Homo sapiens: one gene and its partner. The protein of the gene in region 1 purifies or fractionates together with the protein of each later gene. This does not show direct contact. Each region holds a gene or a part of one and is shown on either strand. Other genes may lie near its edges.

Evidence for each region. The genes of interacting proteins can lie anywhere in the genome.
Region 2: the proteins of STYK1 (region 1) and NUP205 purify together in Homo sapiens (affinity purification with mass spectrometry; one large-scale study listed by BioGRID and IntAct). This does not show direct contact.

What each region holds. Positions count from the first base shown.
Region 1 is NC_000012.12:10,632,514-10,636,201, reverse strand, and holds part of STYK1 (tyrosine-protein kinase STYK1), read left to right. Parts: intron 1-1,515; 5' UTR 1,516-1,583; coding exon 1,584-1,635; intron 1,636-2,077; coding exon 2,078-2,212; intron 2,213-3,688. UniProt on the Homo sapiens protein: Probable tyrosine protein-kinase, which has strong transforming capabilities on a variety of cell lines. When overexpressed, it can also induce tumor cell invasion as well as metastasis in distant organs.
Region 2 is NC_000007.14:135,564,252-135,567,939, forward strand, and holds part of NUP205 (nuclear pore complex protein Nup205), read left to right. Parts: intron 1-3,688. UniProt on the Homo sapiens protein: Plays a role in the nuclear pore complex (NPC) assembly and/or maintenance. May anchor NUP62 and other nucleoporins, but not NUP153 and TPR, to the NPC.

The DNA.
Region 1 (3,688 bases):
TTTACATAGGTCTTTCAGGCACTGAGAGATTCTGCCTCAGTAAGTAACACTGTGGTTATTAGTATCAGTATTAAAAACAATGCATAATGTAATGATAGAGGACAGCATAATATGGCTAATGTAACACCTGTACAACATAGTAGCATATTATATAAGCTATACTTCTGATTTTTGTTTTATGTTTTTATCAAGTCACTACAAAACTGGATCACATATTTAGACTTATTTAGCAGAAAATCATATTTTCTTTCAAGTTAATCAGAATTAAAGAAGTAGGCTTTGTTGACTATAGAACCATGGGAGTGTCTTGTCAAGCAAAGGCAAAATATAAATTTAGGAGAGGTATGGGACAGTGGTAAACATGAGTTCTCTTTGGAAAGAAAGAACCAAGTTTCTAGGGCTGTTATTTGAAATATGTACTGATTATATTATATAGACTTAACAGTGATACACATAAAGAATCCCTTGCCAGACAAACAAGAAACTAATAACTAGAGTCTACTTGGAGGAGACTGGAGGAGAGTTAAGAACTGGATAAATGGAGAAGAATGGGGGGGAGAAATATTTTTATGCTATACAATTTTACACTACTATTTTTTGAATCATATGAATGTATTTTCTTTTTATTTAAAAGAGAAAGAGAAGGTGGCTTGGTACTGATACTTCCTTTATATCCTTGTAGCAATGAGTGTCCGTGTCTATATCTGATATGAGCAGAGGAAGCACCTTGAAGCTCTGAGGGATGAGGAATTAAATAGTTTTTATTGATAAATGCTGTCTGTTCACTGCTTGTGAGGGTGTGGATATTTCAGAGAAACAAAGCAAATGTGTAACTCATATCCTTCGACATCTGTCAATTTTTTATTTGTTATCTGAATTAACTGTGTGTAAAAATGAAATTAAATGTTTTCTTTAGAGCTAGAAATGGTAGCTCATGCCTGTAATTCCAGAGACTCAGGGGATTGAGGCAGGAGGATTAATTGAGCCCAAGAGTTTGAGATTTAAATGAGCCATGCATGATCACACCACTGCACTCAAGCCTGGCTACAGAGCAAGATCCCAACTTCAAAAAATGTTTTGCTTAAAAAATATGATGCACAGCTAAAAAAAATATATTAGACATGCTTAATACTGTAGGGGAGGTAGATCATGCCCACATAACCCATGGATCACAGTTCAGATGGATGTTTTGAATCTGTACTTGATCATGGGAGCAGAAGTCTCGGGTGGGAGGGGAGACTTTAAAATAATTTCAGTAACAGTTGAATGAAAGGACAAGAGCAGATCAGAGCTCTTTGCTGTATAATAGAGAAAAGAGAAACGCTGAGAGGAAGAGAAGGTTGGGAGGGTTCTTCCAACCTGAATATCAGCTAGGTAGATAGAGATAAACGGATGACTCAGAGAGGTAGCCATTTACTTAACTAGTGATCTGTAGAGGCGGTTTAAAATTCTGTGTGTACTTCATTTATTTTTTTTCATTCATTTTATTTTTTTCAAAAACCACTCAATCCTTAGGAATTACTCACAGCTGTGCTGTGTGCATTCTCTGTGGGCCTAGCAGGGAAGGGGACAGCCCTGTGGCAATGGGCATGACACGGATGCTCCTGGAATGCAGTCTCAGTGACAAGTTGTGTGGTAAGTACGGATTCCACAGATGTCTATCCTCTGATTTTAGAATTATGAAGGCTAAGGTCTCGGTAGATTCTAGAAGGAGGATGATTTGATTTCCAGTAGAAATGAAGACAGTGGTGATAAAAGGATGGGGACTAGAGGCCATTGTCTTTTTGGGGAGAGGGTAAGTGCTAATCAGTGATCCAGATGCTGCATCTTCAATCTTGGTAAGAAACTGCCAGAAGCAACGTCATGCACATTTGATGGGCTAAGAAACAGAGTCACTGGGGTTTCTGGTTAGAGAGTTGCTCCCAGCAGTGTTTCTGTTGAATGGAAGTAGAGGAGATGGTAGAAGAGATGACCTTTTCATGTATGATGAGCTGAGAGCTGGCGGGTAGGGGAAATTGCATGAACACCAGGTTAGGCTTCTTCATTCTCTTCTCTTCCTGTGTGATCGCCTACCCAGTCATCCAGGAGAAGCAGTATGAAGTGATTATCGTCCCAACTTTGTTGGTTACTATCTTCCTCATCCTTCTTGGGGTCATCCTGTGGCTTTTTATCAGAGAACAAAGAACTCAACAGCAGCGTTCTGGACCTCAAGGTAAAGCTCAAACTTTGGGGCTGGGCAGGGGCTTAAAGAAGATGGAGATTAGGAAAAAGTATGGTCTAAGTTTCAATGAGCCCATGTCTAGAAGTCTAGGTACCTGCAATGAGAGAGGCATGGGTTCCCTCCCATGGAGTTGAGAGGGGGATGATCTCTTTTCTAGGAATTCCCGAGTTGGAATTCAACACGTGCTTACTGACTGAAAAAAGAGTGTGCAAGAAAAACCTCATATAACCTGTTTCTATTCCTGTTGGACTATCAAAACTTTGACTATATGAGTGCCTAAGGACCTAGGAGAAAGACCTAAGGGGGTAAAGTCCAAGGCTTTATGAACATCCTAGGAGGATGACATATCACCCTATGATACGTTCCATTCCTAATCTTTGCCTCCAGGATATATGATGGAAAGGAGGGGCCTTTATATTATAACAGTCTTTGAAGTGCTAAGTAGATGATAACAGTCTGTTCTGGAGTTCCACTGAGCATATAATAAAAGGGAATCAATTCACAGATGAAACTCAGGGTAAAAAGAAGGAAAAAGAAAACTCTCATAATGATATGAAACTCTATAGTGGCTAATCCTTAGTTTTTCTTTAAATTTTATCCCAATAGTCTTATACTTCACTTTTATAGAAAACTTCTCAAACAAGTTGTCTAAACTCACTCCTACTACTTCTACTCATCACATTCTCTTTTGAACACACTAAAATAAGGTTTTCATCTCTACCACTTCGCCAAAACAAGTCTTTCCAAGGTCATCAATGACAGCTGCATTGAAAAGTCCAATGATCAATTCTTAGTCTTCGTCTTACTTGATCTGTCAAAAGCATTTGAAACAATTTTAAACTTTCTCTTTCTTGAAATACTGAAAAAACTAAAGCCACTTCCTAAATGCTATAATTTTTAGTCTTATGGATTCAAATACATTTTCTATTCCAATGATAGTCCCTTGAACTCAATTCTCATATTAAACCACCTACTGCACAGTTTCAATGGAATACAAATCTCATATGTAATATGACCAAAACAAAGGTCCTGAAATTCTCTCATAAATGTCCTCCGCAAATAGTCTTGCCTATCTTAGTAAATGGCAAGTCCTGTCTTCTGTGTTTTCAGTCTCAAACCTTGAAGATATCAGTCTCAAACCTTGAAACACAGTTTGAGACTGTGTTTTCAGTCTCAAACCTTGAAGATAACTCCTTTCTTTCTCTCACAGTCTGTATCTAATCCATAAGCAAACACTGTTACCCTATTTTCAAAATAAACCCAAGTTACTCTCACATCTCACTGATCACTGCAACACACTCTTAACATTCCCTGCTTCTGCCCCTACTCCTTTATAGAAATGCCAGAATGAGTCTTTTAATACAGTCAGTCCTGTTAGTTATCTGCTTGAAATCTCTCTTCCACACACACACATGCAGTAGCCTCCCACCTTGCTCAGAATGAAAAATGACAAAATTTTTTCCATGG
Region 2 (3,688 bases), on another chromosome or scaffold:
TTTTTTTTTTTTTGAGACGGAGTCTTGCCCTGTCACCCAGGCTGGAGTGCAATGGCATGATCTCAGGTGACTGCAACCTCTGCCTCCTGGGTTCAAGCAATTCTCCTGCCCCGGCCTCCCAAGTAACTGGGATTACAGGTGTTAGCCACCATGCCCAGCTAATTTTTTTGTGTGTGTTTAGTAGAGACAGGGTTTCACCATGTTGGCCATGCTGGTCTTGAACTCCTGACCTTGTGATCTGCCCACCTCGGCCTCCCAAAGTGCTGGATTACAGGCATGAGTCACCACGCCCGGCCTGTTTTTTTTTTAAATAGAGACAGGGTTTTGCCATGTGACCCAGGCTGGTCTTGAACTCCTGCACTTAAGCTCCTTGAACCTTGCTTGGGAGGCCTACCTCAGCCTCTCAAAGTGCTAGGATTACAGGTGCGAGCCACCTTGCCTGGCCCTTTGATGCTATGTTGATATTAATGACGAACTAAGTAGGCCAGTGAACCTGTTTTTTTATTGTTGAGTTTTTTTGTTTGTTTGTTTTTTGAGATGGAGTCTCACTCTGTCTTCCAGACTGGAGTGCAGTGGTGCGCTCTTGGCTCACTGCAACCTCTGCCTCCAGGTTCAAGCGATTCTCCCACCTCAGCCTCCTGAGTAGCTGGGATTACAGGTGCACGCCACCATGCCTGGCTACTTTTTAAAAATTTTTTGTAGAGACAGGGTTTTGACATTTTGGCCAGGCTGGTCTCGAACTCCTGACCTCAAGTGATCTGCCCGCCTTGGCCTCCCAAAGTACTGGCATTACAAGTGTGAGCCACTGCAGCCGGCCTATTGTAGAGTTTTGATCTTTAATTGGATGCCTACCATTATTGGGGGAAAAATTGGATTTTTCTCTACCATTCACTGAGCTTATTACACTAAATATGTATAGTACAAGGAAATTTATTGGTTTTTCAGAGGTCCTACTGTATATTAATATTTAAAATGAGGGAGAGAAAATTAACTTTTGTCAGCACTTTATCAGATTTCTGAAATGTCTGTGGTAAGGTATATTTCAGATTTGCATAGGAGTCATCATTAATACCTTCCCTTTATACCATGTGCCATTTGATGACCAATTCTGAGTCCTTTCTGTTACTAACAGACCTTTTCTTCCTCCTGTACTGCCCTCATCCTAGTTTAGGTTCCATTTTCTTATTTTTTTTTTTTTGAGATGGAGTTTCGCTATTGTTGCCCAGGCTGGAGTGCAATGGTGTGATCTCGGCTCACTGCAACCGCCACTCCCAGGGTTCAAGCTATTCTCCTGCCTCAGCCTCCCGAGTAGCTGGGATTACAGGCACCTGCCACCATGCCTGGCTAATTTTGTATTTTTAGTAGAGATGGGGTTTCTCTATGTTGATCAGGCTGGTCTCGAACTCCCGACCTAAGGTGATCTGCCCACCTTGGCCTCCCGGTTCCATTTTCTTATAAGTGGCTTACTTACCTCTTATCCTTGTTTCCTGACACTGCCTGTTCTAGTCCATCAACCACACTAGAACACCATTTTCCTACAATGCCAGTTTCATTTTGTCATCTGCTACTGGAAACTTTGCCATTTACTAATAGGAAAAATTCCATCATGGCCCTGGAATCCAAGGCTGAAACCTACTCTATCCTTTGCAGTTAGAGAGAGGGCCAAGAAAATGATCCTGAGGGAAGTCATCTAGTCACCAGGATCTAGGTCCTCATTTTGGCAGGCAGAGAAATCTGATTTTTTTCAGTGTATCCAGAGTTGATTAGGTCCCATTCATTGATTATTCTCTAATCAAATTCAGAAAAGACAGATACATAAACCAGTATGCCAGTTATTGCTCTTTTTTATTTTATTTGTTTATTTATTTGTTTTTTGAGACAGAGGCTTGCTGTGTTGCCCAGGCTGGATGGCAGTGGTGTGATCTCGGCTCACTGCAACCTCTGCCTCCCAGATTCAAGAGATTCTTGTGCCTCAACCCTCCTTGTAGTTGGATTTACAGGTGTGCATCATTGCACCTGGCTAATTTTTGTATTTCTAGTAGAGACGGAGTTTCATCATGTTGGCCAGACTGGTCTTGAACTCCTAGCCTTGGCCTCCCGAAGTGCTGGGGTTACACGGATGAGCCACCACCCCTGTCTGCCAGTTATTGCTCTTTAATGGGAAGTATGTCTGCATAGGTACTCATGTTGCCTTGTCAACACATCCTTCATGCTAGAAATTTATATGTCGAGCTATATTTTTAATCAGAAGATTGGAAAGTGTGGGACTAAAGCAGGAGAAGCAAAGCAGGGAATTGGATGATCTGTCTATGTAAGGAAGATCTAGACATGCAGATTCCTCACATCCCCACATCAAAGACCTGACGCTTTGCATCCTTCCCTAATCTTCAGATTAGTTTAGGCTCTTTCTTTCATGTACTCTCATAGCCCGTTGTACTTCATCATATCTTTTATTATACTGATATCTTTGGAATTATTTGTTTTTTCGTTTTGTTTTGTTTTTTGAGACGGAGTCTTGCTCTGTTGCCCAGGCTGAAGCGCAGTGGCGCAATCTCGGCTCACTGCAACCTCTGCCTCCCAGGTTCAAGCAATTCTTCTGCCTCAGCCTCCCGAGTAGCTGGGACTACAGGTGCGCACCACCATGCCTGGCTAATTTTTGTATTTTTAGTAGAGATGGGGTTTCACCATATTGGCCAGGTGGCTGGTCTCGAACTCCTGACCTCGTGATCGGCCCACCTCGGCTTCCCAAAGTGCTGAGATTACAGGTGTGAGCCACTGCACCCGGCCTGGAATTCTTTGTTTAATGTCTGTCAGTCTTATCAATTTGTAAGTTCCATGAGGCTTGGGATTCTGTCTGTCTTGCTCAGTCTATGTGTGTATATATATATATATATATATATATATATATATATATATATATATATATATATGTATATATGGTCCCTCAGTAAATATTTGATAGTGAATGAAAGTATGAATAAATAATCCATCTCCACTGGTTTAGTCCGTCCTCTCCCTGCACATCTCCCTTTAAAAAATTTTTTTTTCAGGCTGGGTGCAGTGGCTCATGCCTTTCATCCCAGCACTTGGGAAGGCCAAGGTGGGCAGGGTAGATTGCTTGAGTCCAGGAGTCTGAGACAAGCCTGGACAACATGGTGAAACCCTGTCTATACCAAAAAAAAAAAAAAAAAAAAAAGCAAACAAACAGAAATTAGGTGGGTGTGGTTGCATACCTGTAGTCCCAGCTATTCAGGAGGCTGAGGGGGGCAGTATCTCTTGACCCCAGGAAGTTGAGGCTACAGTGAGCTGAGATGGCACCACTGTACTCCAGCCTGGGTGACAAAGTGAGACCCTGTCTCAAAAAAAAAATGTTTTTAAATTACATTGCGTCATCTGACGTTGTTCATTGAGTTATAATGTATTTAATTACATTACAGTTATCTTTCATGTTGTTCTTATATCCTGGTAACTTTATTTGGATTTGGGTTTTCTCAACAGTTTACCCTGTTTACAGTCTTTAATGTTTAGGCTATAGTTAGTTCTAAGTTTCATCTGTTGAGTAATTGGTTTTGACCAGTTTTTCCTTCAGAGTCTAAACACATATGAGTACCTTATCTGCTTATTTCCAAACAGAAACCTTTGGCTTTAGAGTCATATTTTTTAAATGGTGAGTCTAAAATCAGTTTAG